2 linked regions of the Homo sapiens genome follow. The protein of the gene in region 1 purifies or fractionates together with the protein of each later gene. This does not show direct contact. Each region holds a gene or a part of one and is shown on either strand. Other genes may lie near its edges.

Region 1 (6,095 bases):
CATTTTTGCATGACATAGTGTAAACTATTTCAGTGTTTCACATGTATTAACCACCCCTGGAGGGAAGGAAAGAAAAGAGAGTAATTCGACAGTAATTCCAAGACAGGGAGTTGCCCCTTAGGGGATGACTACAAAGGAAGAAAGAAAATACCTGGCTTCATGTTAGGCATCCCCATCTCCAAAACCACGCTGGGGGTATGCACCTCATTGTAGTAAATCAGGAGTTCCACGTCCCGATCAAACTTGTGTCCAGCAGCCAGGGAAACCTGAGTGGAGGACAGGTAAAGGAGCCACATTAGAATCATAACTTCTTGCTTCTTGGGGCTGAGGTTAGGGCGCAGTCCTCCTCCATAAGACAGCATGACTAGGAACAGAGGTGAGGCTGGAGAGAAGGCTCTGGAGATTAAATGACGATATGCAAGGAGCATGTGGGACCCCCTCTGGGTTACCACTTGGGAAGAACTGGTTGGGGACCAAGTCAAGACTCAAGCAACAGAGGTACTGACAATAGCAGTATTCTCTCATTAACTACCTGAGCAGAAGTCTTGTCCTCTCCTAGGTACTCGGTAGGACTCAAGGGGCAGTTGGATTGGACCTTCTCAATGCCATGCTGGGAATCTATGGTGGCGACCATGCTGAGTGTGTAGGGCAGGTCCTCCACAGGGACTATAGGAGTCTTCACATTAAGGCAACTGTCCTTAGACGACCCTATAAAAGATGACCTTAGTTCTGTTTTCCTTGCCAACACTTTTTATGACACTCTCAACCTTAAGAAAATTTCCCCATTTATGTCACCCACCACTAGAATTCAAAGGGGAGAGGTACTCACCAGAGAACTGGTATCTAGGATTCAGGACAGCTGGGAGCACAAAGCGCAGAGCCCCATCTGCTTCCAGAGGCAGCTCCTGCACATACTTCAGGGTGACTGCCGCCTTCGACCCAGGTTGGAGGTTACCCACATTGCAAGAGAAGACATCCCTGGAGCTGCTGTCCCCCTCCAATAAGAAGGCCTGGTGGCCCTGGGAGATGGCTTTCTCATAGTTGGTGCGGGCCTGAGAAGCACAGGGCGAGGGATGGGAAAGAAAGGGAACATCCAAGGTGACATGGCTGAAAAAGAGACGAGCAGTGCAGAGCGACTGTGTGATTGGTCTTGTCTAATCACAGCTATACTCTGAATGCCTCTGATTGATTTCTTTCCCCAAATGATTTTAGAAAAATGGCAGTTAGAAAAGAGTGGAAGAAAGAGCTTTCAACATCAGCATGTTTTGTGAAGGTACATTTAGTAGAGATCATAAAGAGTATGCATTAAGGAAATAAGAAGGGAGGAGGTAATGTAATAAGAAGGGAGGAGGTAATCTCTACTACCTTCATCTTGTCTTGTAATTCTGCTACAATTTTCTTCCCATCCACCAAGGCCTCAAAGCTGTAAACAGCAGAGTCTTCATCCATGGGGAACACAAAGAAGGCCTCCAAAGGAACTTTCTCCTCATTCTCGTAGTTCAAAGTTGCAGACACACCAGCCACAAACTCGTAAATGTTCACGCTCACAGAGATACTCTTCAGCGGCACTGGAGATAGACCAGAGTTCAAGTTCATCAAGCTTCAATAGATTGCCTCCTTGTAGATCAAGCCTTGTGATAGGTGCCAAAGATTCAATGGCAAGTAAGAGTCACAAATTAGGCTTACCTGGCTCCCGGTGGAGGGTGAGTAGGCCACAGAAGTGCACCATGGTGATGCAAGATTTCTGCAGAAAAGACATATCACAAACAGAGGACATGTTGGAAGTTATCTGTTCAAACACCAGTACTTTATGTGCCTTTCTCTGGCATAAGAATACATTCAAAGGGTTAATGTTGGAGTTAGGAAGTTGGAACCTTTAAAAAAAAGGAGACAAAGATTTCAGTCATAAGGGTCCTTTTAAATGGCAGTCCCAGGTGGGGAAGGTGTAAGATTCACTGGTATCTACTAAACAGGAAATCTCTGAAACACCCTGAGGCTGGTTCAAATACCAATTCCACTTTCTCAAAAGTGTATTTAATTCACCACTCCTTGGGCATATGGAGTAGGTGTCACTAATCCCTCTGAGCCTCAGTATTTTCTTTCCAAAATGAGTAGTATAATATCCACACATCGTATGTGAATTAATACATGTGAAGTCCCTACAATAGCACATGGGCCATAGGAGGCATTTAATCAATGATGACAGACATCACTATTGTCCCTATTATTGTTGTTACTGTTAATCAATAAACCTCTGCCACCATTCACTTTGGATCATGGCATTCAGAGACGCGCTGCATGTGAGAAGCTGTGTGATTCAAGATGGACTCCTGCCACAGGCCATTTACCTTGTGGCTTTTCTTTTGGGACCCAAAATTAAAAGATACGAGTATATTTGTTTGTATCCATCCAAGATATTCTAATATATTTAAATATTATATAGGCACATAGCCTACATTTGCACCCCCACTAAACAGCACCAATAAATCAGGCTTTTCATTCCATATCTGTTTTTATTTTGAGAAATTGGATAAAAACTGAGTGTGGCAAAATGACTCACAATTCGACAGCAACGCAGAGGACAGTGGCAGGTGTGAGGAGAGGAGAGGATGCTCAGAAAAGGGCTTCTACGCAGACCTCTGACCTGGGCAAGTTCTCTGGTAGAACAGGCTGGGCTGGGGGAGGGAAGAATTTCTAATAACACATTAAGCAGAGAGCCTAAAGCAGGAGACTCACACAGGAGTAAAACAGCTGAAAGAGAAGCTCTCAGGCTGGGCAATACTCACCAAGGTGGCTAGAGTAAAAGAGAGAGAGACGCAAAGGGCACCCCTACAAGGAAATAGCCTTCGCTTCCTGATTCTAAGCTCAGAACAAATCCTCCGTTGAGGAAAACTTGCTATTCTGCACCCTTGCCCCCACTCTTCCCAGTACAAACAAAATTAGTTTGGGTCAGAATTAGTTCTGTCTCTCAGGATGGCACTTCAGAAAGGCAACTTGCAAGGCTTAGGTAGAGACTGGCCACCAAGCTGAAAGCCATGAATCTGAGGCAGCTGGGAGAATACAAGGCTTCCGGCCTAGCCAGGTAGCTGCTTCAGGAATGCAGAGTCCCAGCACCAGCCGCTCAGCAGCTAGGAGGGTGGGAGGGGAGCTGGGTGGCACCACCGGCCACACACACCCCTGCGGCCTGTGGCAGGGGTGAAGTGGAGAACTCGGAACCAGACAAGGAGGAGATTTGGGGTAAGAAGTGGGGCTTGGATAAAATCAGAGATTGATTTAACCTTTCCATTCAGTCCTAGATTTCCAATGTCCACGTATTTACAGAAGAGACTGCGTCGGTCTCTTACATTTCTATAGAGAAGGGCTTAGGGGCTGCAACTGATTGGAGTAGATGAGGCTTACAGCCTCATTTCCTCAGCTTACACTATCCTGAAACTGAGAAAACATCAATTGTCTATATCAAAGAAAGAAAGCGGGAAAAAAAGTAAAGTAAAAGAGAAGGAAAGTAGGAAGAAGGGCCTTGAGATTAGGAGATGGCTAAATCCCTCCTTCAACCTCCAAAAGATTCCCCTAAACTGCCAAACTTGCAGGAACCTTCCTGGGGATCATACATCAGGATGAAATCCTCCACCCATGGGGCGTGCAATTCAAGGAGCCCCTACAAATTTGGGGACTGGGGAAAGGGAGCTAGAATGTGGAGCTCTCAGTCTTCCAGAGCAGGGGTTGGATCCAGGCCCTGCACCGGTAGCTTGGTCCCCTACCTTCCTCTCCTGCAGCCCGGAGCGCTCTGAGTCACAGCGGAGTGAAAACAGCTGCAGTCATAATTTCCGGAAAGAACCGCCCCCTTCTAGGGACCGGTTATAAAGTAGCGACTACAAGACTAAGGGATCAACGGAAAATTATTGAACAAATAATCGAACTTTCGCTTGTTTGTATCAAAGGAAAAGTCTTCGACTTTGGAACGTTTGGTTTTTTTCTTTGCTCTTTGCTAAGGAACAATCAGAGAACAGGCAAAGAGGGCAAGGGAAAATGCTGCAACAGGAACAACAACAATGACATTAAAAACTGCATATTTTTGTAAAAGCTTAATTGCCAAAGGCTTACTGTGTCCTGGGCCCTGTTAATCAAAGCTTTATGGAGATTATATCATTGACACCTTATCTCTAATGTGAGTCATTTTCCCCCAAGTTGCCCCTCCCCTACAGCAGGGGGAAAGATAAGGAGATAGTGCAAGGCACACACATCTGCTCTAATGAGAGAAGCTCTAGCCAGGGAAGCCCAAGTCTTCCTGTCATGGGTCGCTTATGGGATCCTGAAACCAAATGTTTGGGTTAACGATGTAAGTAACTGAGAATGTCTATGCTCATTTACCTGGCTAAAGGACATTAGAAGCGATCAAGGTCCCCATGGCTTCTCTATTTCAAAACAACCTATTAAATCTGAGACTTAAAGTGTCATATTGCTGTCGAGAATCTATAGGATAAAGAATACATGATACATATGGAAAACACAGCTTGATTTTGGTCTCTGTGATGTATTTTTTGTGGATATACTTGTTATATACTGGTTATATACTTGTTTTTGTGAGATATTTGTTATATACAAATAACTCTCCCCAAGTTATTTGTTCTCTCATCTGAAACGGGGATAATGACAAACCTCCACTGATTGTTTTTGTGAGATCTAATGAATCTTAGTGGCTATAAAAGTTTTATATATATATATATATATATATATATACACACACACACACACACACACACACATTTATATACTTTATATATATACACCCACATACACATTTATATACATGGATGTGCATGCATAGATGTATATATGTGTATATATGTACACCCATGCATGTATATACAGTTACATGCATGTAATATATGCATATATAGTAAAGCATAATATAAGCACAAATTCTATTTTATCAGTACTAGGCCCTACAACCATGTTTTTTACATGTACTGAACTAATTATGAGAGGAAATTATCCTTTTCTCTGGAGAGAAATCATGTCTGGTATTGTTCCTTGTGACTGTGCCTTCTTTCCATTGGCCGAAACATCTGAGCAACAAAAGGGAGGAGCTGGAAACGTGGGCAGAGTTCATCATCTGATCCTGCTGGGCTTAGAGCTTAGCACTAAAAGTCTGCCACAGACCAGGCATGCAGCGTGGTTAGAGGGCACTGAATCAGGAAACACACAGAAGTTGCTGGTTGTTGAAAAAACAACTATGTGAAAATTCCCATAACCTAGCACAATATACACAATTAAACCGATATAGATGAGATATCTTCACTTAAAAGTCTGTCTTAGTGTTGCCAGGCATTCCTCAAGGTTGATTCTCACCTTCTTTTTTATACTAACAGGAACCCCAAGTTTCACAATGTCTATGACCATTCAGAATAAAAACATTGCCTAGCCTCCCTTAAAGCTGGTGTGGCCTTGTAACTAAGCTCTGGCCCATAGGGTACAAGAAATAAGTGCAACACCATGTCATGCCCTTTCAAAGAAAAGAGGATGGCTTCCCATTCACTTTACCCTCTTCCTGCTCATTGGTGTGAATGCAGGTAACTGAACCAGCTTGAACCATAAAGACTAGATCATAAAGCCTGGAGCATTTCCCCTAAAAATGGAGAAGCAACAAGACAGAAAGATCCTGAGCCCCTGAGACTCTCATAGAGCAAGCCACTGTATCATCACAGAATTTTACAGGATAAAGTAACAAATTTCTCCATGGTTTATAACAGCTCTTTGGGTCCTTATCTTACCCTAATACATTTGATTATGATTAATTAAAAAGTAGACTTTTAAGGAAACTATCTTCTTCAGAATATGAAAAGCACATTTGCTTATAATGGAAATAGAAATCTGCATATTATGAGAACAATATCCAATTTATTTTAGCGCCCACCACTGTAACACATGTGCCCTGAATTATGCCGGTGTGTGTTGATTATGTTGATCATAGTTTGCTACTTATTTTTCTTCAGTTCTTCTGAGAGCCATTTCCCTTCCTGAAATAAAAAGGCTGTTTGTCATAGAGTGCTTAGCATTGGTTCAGAACAGGCTTTCAATAAGTCGTTTCGGTCATT
Region 2 (3,500 bases), 1.1 Mb from region 1:
CCCCCTGACCCTCCTGGAAGCTGGGGGACTCTGCAGGGTCCCTCTCAACAAGCACTCTCCCGGCCCCTGCAGACAAATAAATGAGGCCAGCTACCTCTGCAATATATCTTCCCACCCACTCACCTGCCTACAGGTAGACAGCCTTCCCACTGCTGGGCTAGGTGTTCTCTGGTGTCCTATCACCTTCTACAAACTCATGGTGCCTGATGGACCTCGCATGTACAGCCCAGACAGTCGTAGGAGAATAGACTTGAAAGGGGCTTGAAGAGAGCCAAGGATAACCTGCTCATTGTATAAAATGAGGATTCTGAAATCCAGAGAAGTTAAGAGATGAGTCAAGGTCATATAGCTTGTTCTCAATTTCACATGCGTTTTGTTTGGTCTCCTCATCAAAAATATGTAGCTCCTAGAGGATGAGGCCACTGAGTGTTCCCCACAGCATGCTAATGGGCACTAATTAAATAGTGGGTTCAGGCCACACCTGTTGACAGGTGGATTCTTAGGGAGGAAATGAGAATGAGAACAAGCACCTGTCGCCCCTGGGCCCGGGGCATACACTTGACTCTCTGGGCGTCTGTCTCCCTGCCCTGGACCTGGAGATAGAACTGACAATCTCCACAGAGGAAGGTCTCCTGGGAGGAAGGCAGGACAGCTCCTCAGAAGGAGGGGTCACATCACATTTAGACCTAGCACAGGACTTGGTACAGAGGAGCATCCATTCCTTAACAATGCACTGTGGACTGAGGACCGTGAGGGGAAGCTCTGGGGTAGGGCTCACTTGCCACTACTCCAGCACAGACCCATTGTGCTACGCTGGAACCCAGAGAGCCTGTGCCCTCCCCTTACCTAATAGGAATTAGACAGATGCTACCACTAACGGGCTAAACTCCCCTTGGTGTTTGTCGGCTTGACATCTGTCTGGATTGTGAGCTGATGACCACGGGCACGAGCCCCCGAGGGAATTCTTTCCACCCAGGGGTCCAGCTTACACCTGGGCTGGCAGACCAAGGCCACACTGCAGCCTCGCTGCCCCCACTCATAGCCATGAGATATCCCCTGCTCCTAAATCTACCTCTGCCTCTTAGTGCGGGCCCTCCCAGCCCCACCTGAGACTGAAGACTTTGTGGAAGTAAAAAACAGATCTTCTAGACTTTGGTTTTCACAACAGTAGCTCTTCCCAGCATTTGCCAAAGATTCGAGTAATGGAGGAGATGAGTTTAGCTGGTTCTTTTATGAAAGATCTTGGGAGAGGACTAGGTAGAGCTCAGGAATGGCTTGTGTTGTCTCCAGAAGGCTAAAGGAAGAACCATCATCATAGAAGATAAGCCTGGGCTACCCTAAATAATGTGCTCCATTGCTACACACAGACACACCTGCACCCACTTCCTGGACCTGCCACTTTAGCCACTCTCTGAGCCCCAGTTTCTCTTACCTATAAAATGATACAATGCCCATTTTACCTGCTTCACAAGGCTAAGAGGATCACACAAGGGCATGTGAGAATGAGCTTTATTAGGACAGAAGACTAATATTTATTCAACATGAGCTTGCCATGTGCCAACCACTTACAGATGTTTTCTTCCAGAGTTTTCACAGCAGTCTTAAATATGCTTGGTAGTATTATTATCCTCACCTATAAAGCCAAGAAAACGGAGGCTCAGAGGGGTTAAGTGATGTGCACACTGCTTAGCTGTAGTAGAACCAGGGTCAGAACCCAGAATCTGACTCCAAAGCCTGTGTTCCTTCCCCTAGCCCCACGCTGTCTCAACAAGAAAAGTAAATGCTGCTTTTTATGAAGAAGCCAGTGAGTTTTCAGACTGAAATTGCTGCCTCATGGAGCCATCCCCTATCGCTAGGAACATCCATTTGTCCCAGGCAGGCCATCAGAAGGGTCAGAACCAACCCCTAGGCCCCCACTGTCCTTAAGACTCTATACCACAGGGGCCAAGCCCCTGCAGTCTGTTGAATGTCATCATGATTCTTTGCTCGGATTTGTGGCGGTGGCGGTGGTTTTAATGATTGCCTAGCCACAAAGCCACGAAGCAATCCAATTGGGAGGAAATATGGAATCATGGAACTTTGAGTAGAAGGGGACCTCTGAGAGCAAGTTCAAGCTCCTCATTGGATAAGTGAGGACACTGACATCCAGAGAAGGTAAGTCCCTTGTTGAAGGTCACACAGTCAGTCAGTGGCTGAGTCCACAGTGGAATCCACCATGCTCAGACTACCAGTCCCCCCTTTCTCTCCACCATCCCGATCACCCTGATATCAATCAGCTTCATGGTTCCTGAGATGGAAGAGGGCTGGATGTGGGCCTATAGTCTCTGCTCTCTCTGCTTAGGGAAAAAGGGGATCTTAGGTAAGAAAGCCATGTTGCAACCAGGAGTGAAGTGATTTGTTTGCCTCATGCACCAACTCATTGGTCTAAGTTCTACCCATTGAGAAGCCAACGTGGAAAGGTCTGCTCGGAAATCCCTCAGTGTGTAAGGGAAACTGGACCCAAACAACAAGGCCTTACCTGGTGCTCCTGGGGCAGGGACAGCCCACTTCTGGCCACCTGGGATAGGTAGAGGGGGCTAAGCTCCTCCTTCTAGTCCAGGCTGCTCCCTTGCAGTCCCCAGGACAGCGCAGAGCACCATGACCTAGGAGGCTCATGTTTCATGCCCCCACTGGCCAGCCGCTCAGCCAGTCCTCCTCTAACACTCTGCAGAGGCTCCCTTCCTCCCAGAAGTCTGCCCTGTGACTCCACTCTGTCCTGGTCACTCCACATCCTGCCCCACTGTTGTCTCCTGTGGTTAACACCTGGTTGGTGGCTTTTTCCACGTCACCTCTCTGTCCATCATCTCTCAGGTCTGTGTATTGTATGTGCCCTCTCTACTGTTAACCCCAGACACCCCTCATCCCCAAAGTGTCCTCAGGGTCTGTGTACCTGTTTTCTACTGCAGCCTCTGCCAGGGCTGTGCACAGCAGGCAGCACCAGGCCACAGCATTGACTGGCTATTTGTGCAACGCTGGTTGAAGACGCCAGTGACCTGGAAAAGGGCCCAAGCCAGGTTCTGGGGAAGCAAAAGGAAAGGGAAAGGGGTAATCCTCCAACTGGATCATCAGCTCCAACATAACATGACAGAGGAGAGTCAACCATGACTGAGCCTCTCCTCTGTGCCAGACACCGTGCTAGGGACTTAACAGATGCCCCTCAACAGTCCTGTGAGCTATGTGCTTTTACTTCCCAATTTACAAATGGGGTAACTGGATCGAAGATGTTAAGCAACTTGTCTAGATCCATATGACAGGTAAAGAGCAGGGCTAGGCTCTAAATGAAGTTTTGCCTGATGCTAAATAAAGCCCATACTCAACACCGCCCCCACCACAAGCAAGCTCCTTGAGGACAGGCTTCATGGCAATGTCTTGGCTTTGTTTTTGCTGCTGTCTCCTCAATGCCTAGGACTGTGCCGGGGACACAGAAGATGCTCTATAAATATTTGCTGAATGGAAGAACA

Evidence for each region.
Region 2: the proteins of VWA5A (region 1) and PKNOX2 purify together in Homo sapiens (affinity purification with mass spectrometry; 2 studies listed by BioGRID and IntAct, with this or other methods). This does not show direct contact.

What each region holds. Positions count from the first base shown.
Region 1 is NC_000011.10:124,113,146-124,119,240, reverse strand, and holds the start of VWA5A (von Willebrand factor A domain-containing protein 5A), read right to left. Parts: upstream 3,792-6,095; 5' UTR 3,759-3,791; intron 2,676-3,758; 5' UTR 2,561-2,675; intron 1,875-2,560; exon of another isoform or gene 1,778-1,874; coding exon of another isoform or gene 1,730-1,777; coding exon 1,687-1,729; intron 1,569-1,686; coding exon 1,366-1,568; intron 1,053-1,365; coding exon 830-1,052; intron 709-829; coding exon 533-708; intron 267-532; coding exon 152-266; intron 1-151. UniProt on the Homo sapiens protein: May play a role in tumorigenesis as a tumor suppressor. Altered expression of this protein and disruption of the molecular pathway it is involved in, may contribute directly to or modify tumorigenesis.
Region 2 is NC_000011.10:125,171,251-125,174,750, reverse strand, and holds part of PKNOX2 (homeobox protein PKNOX2), read right to left. Parts: intron 1-3,500.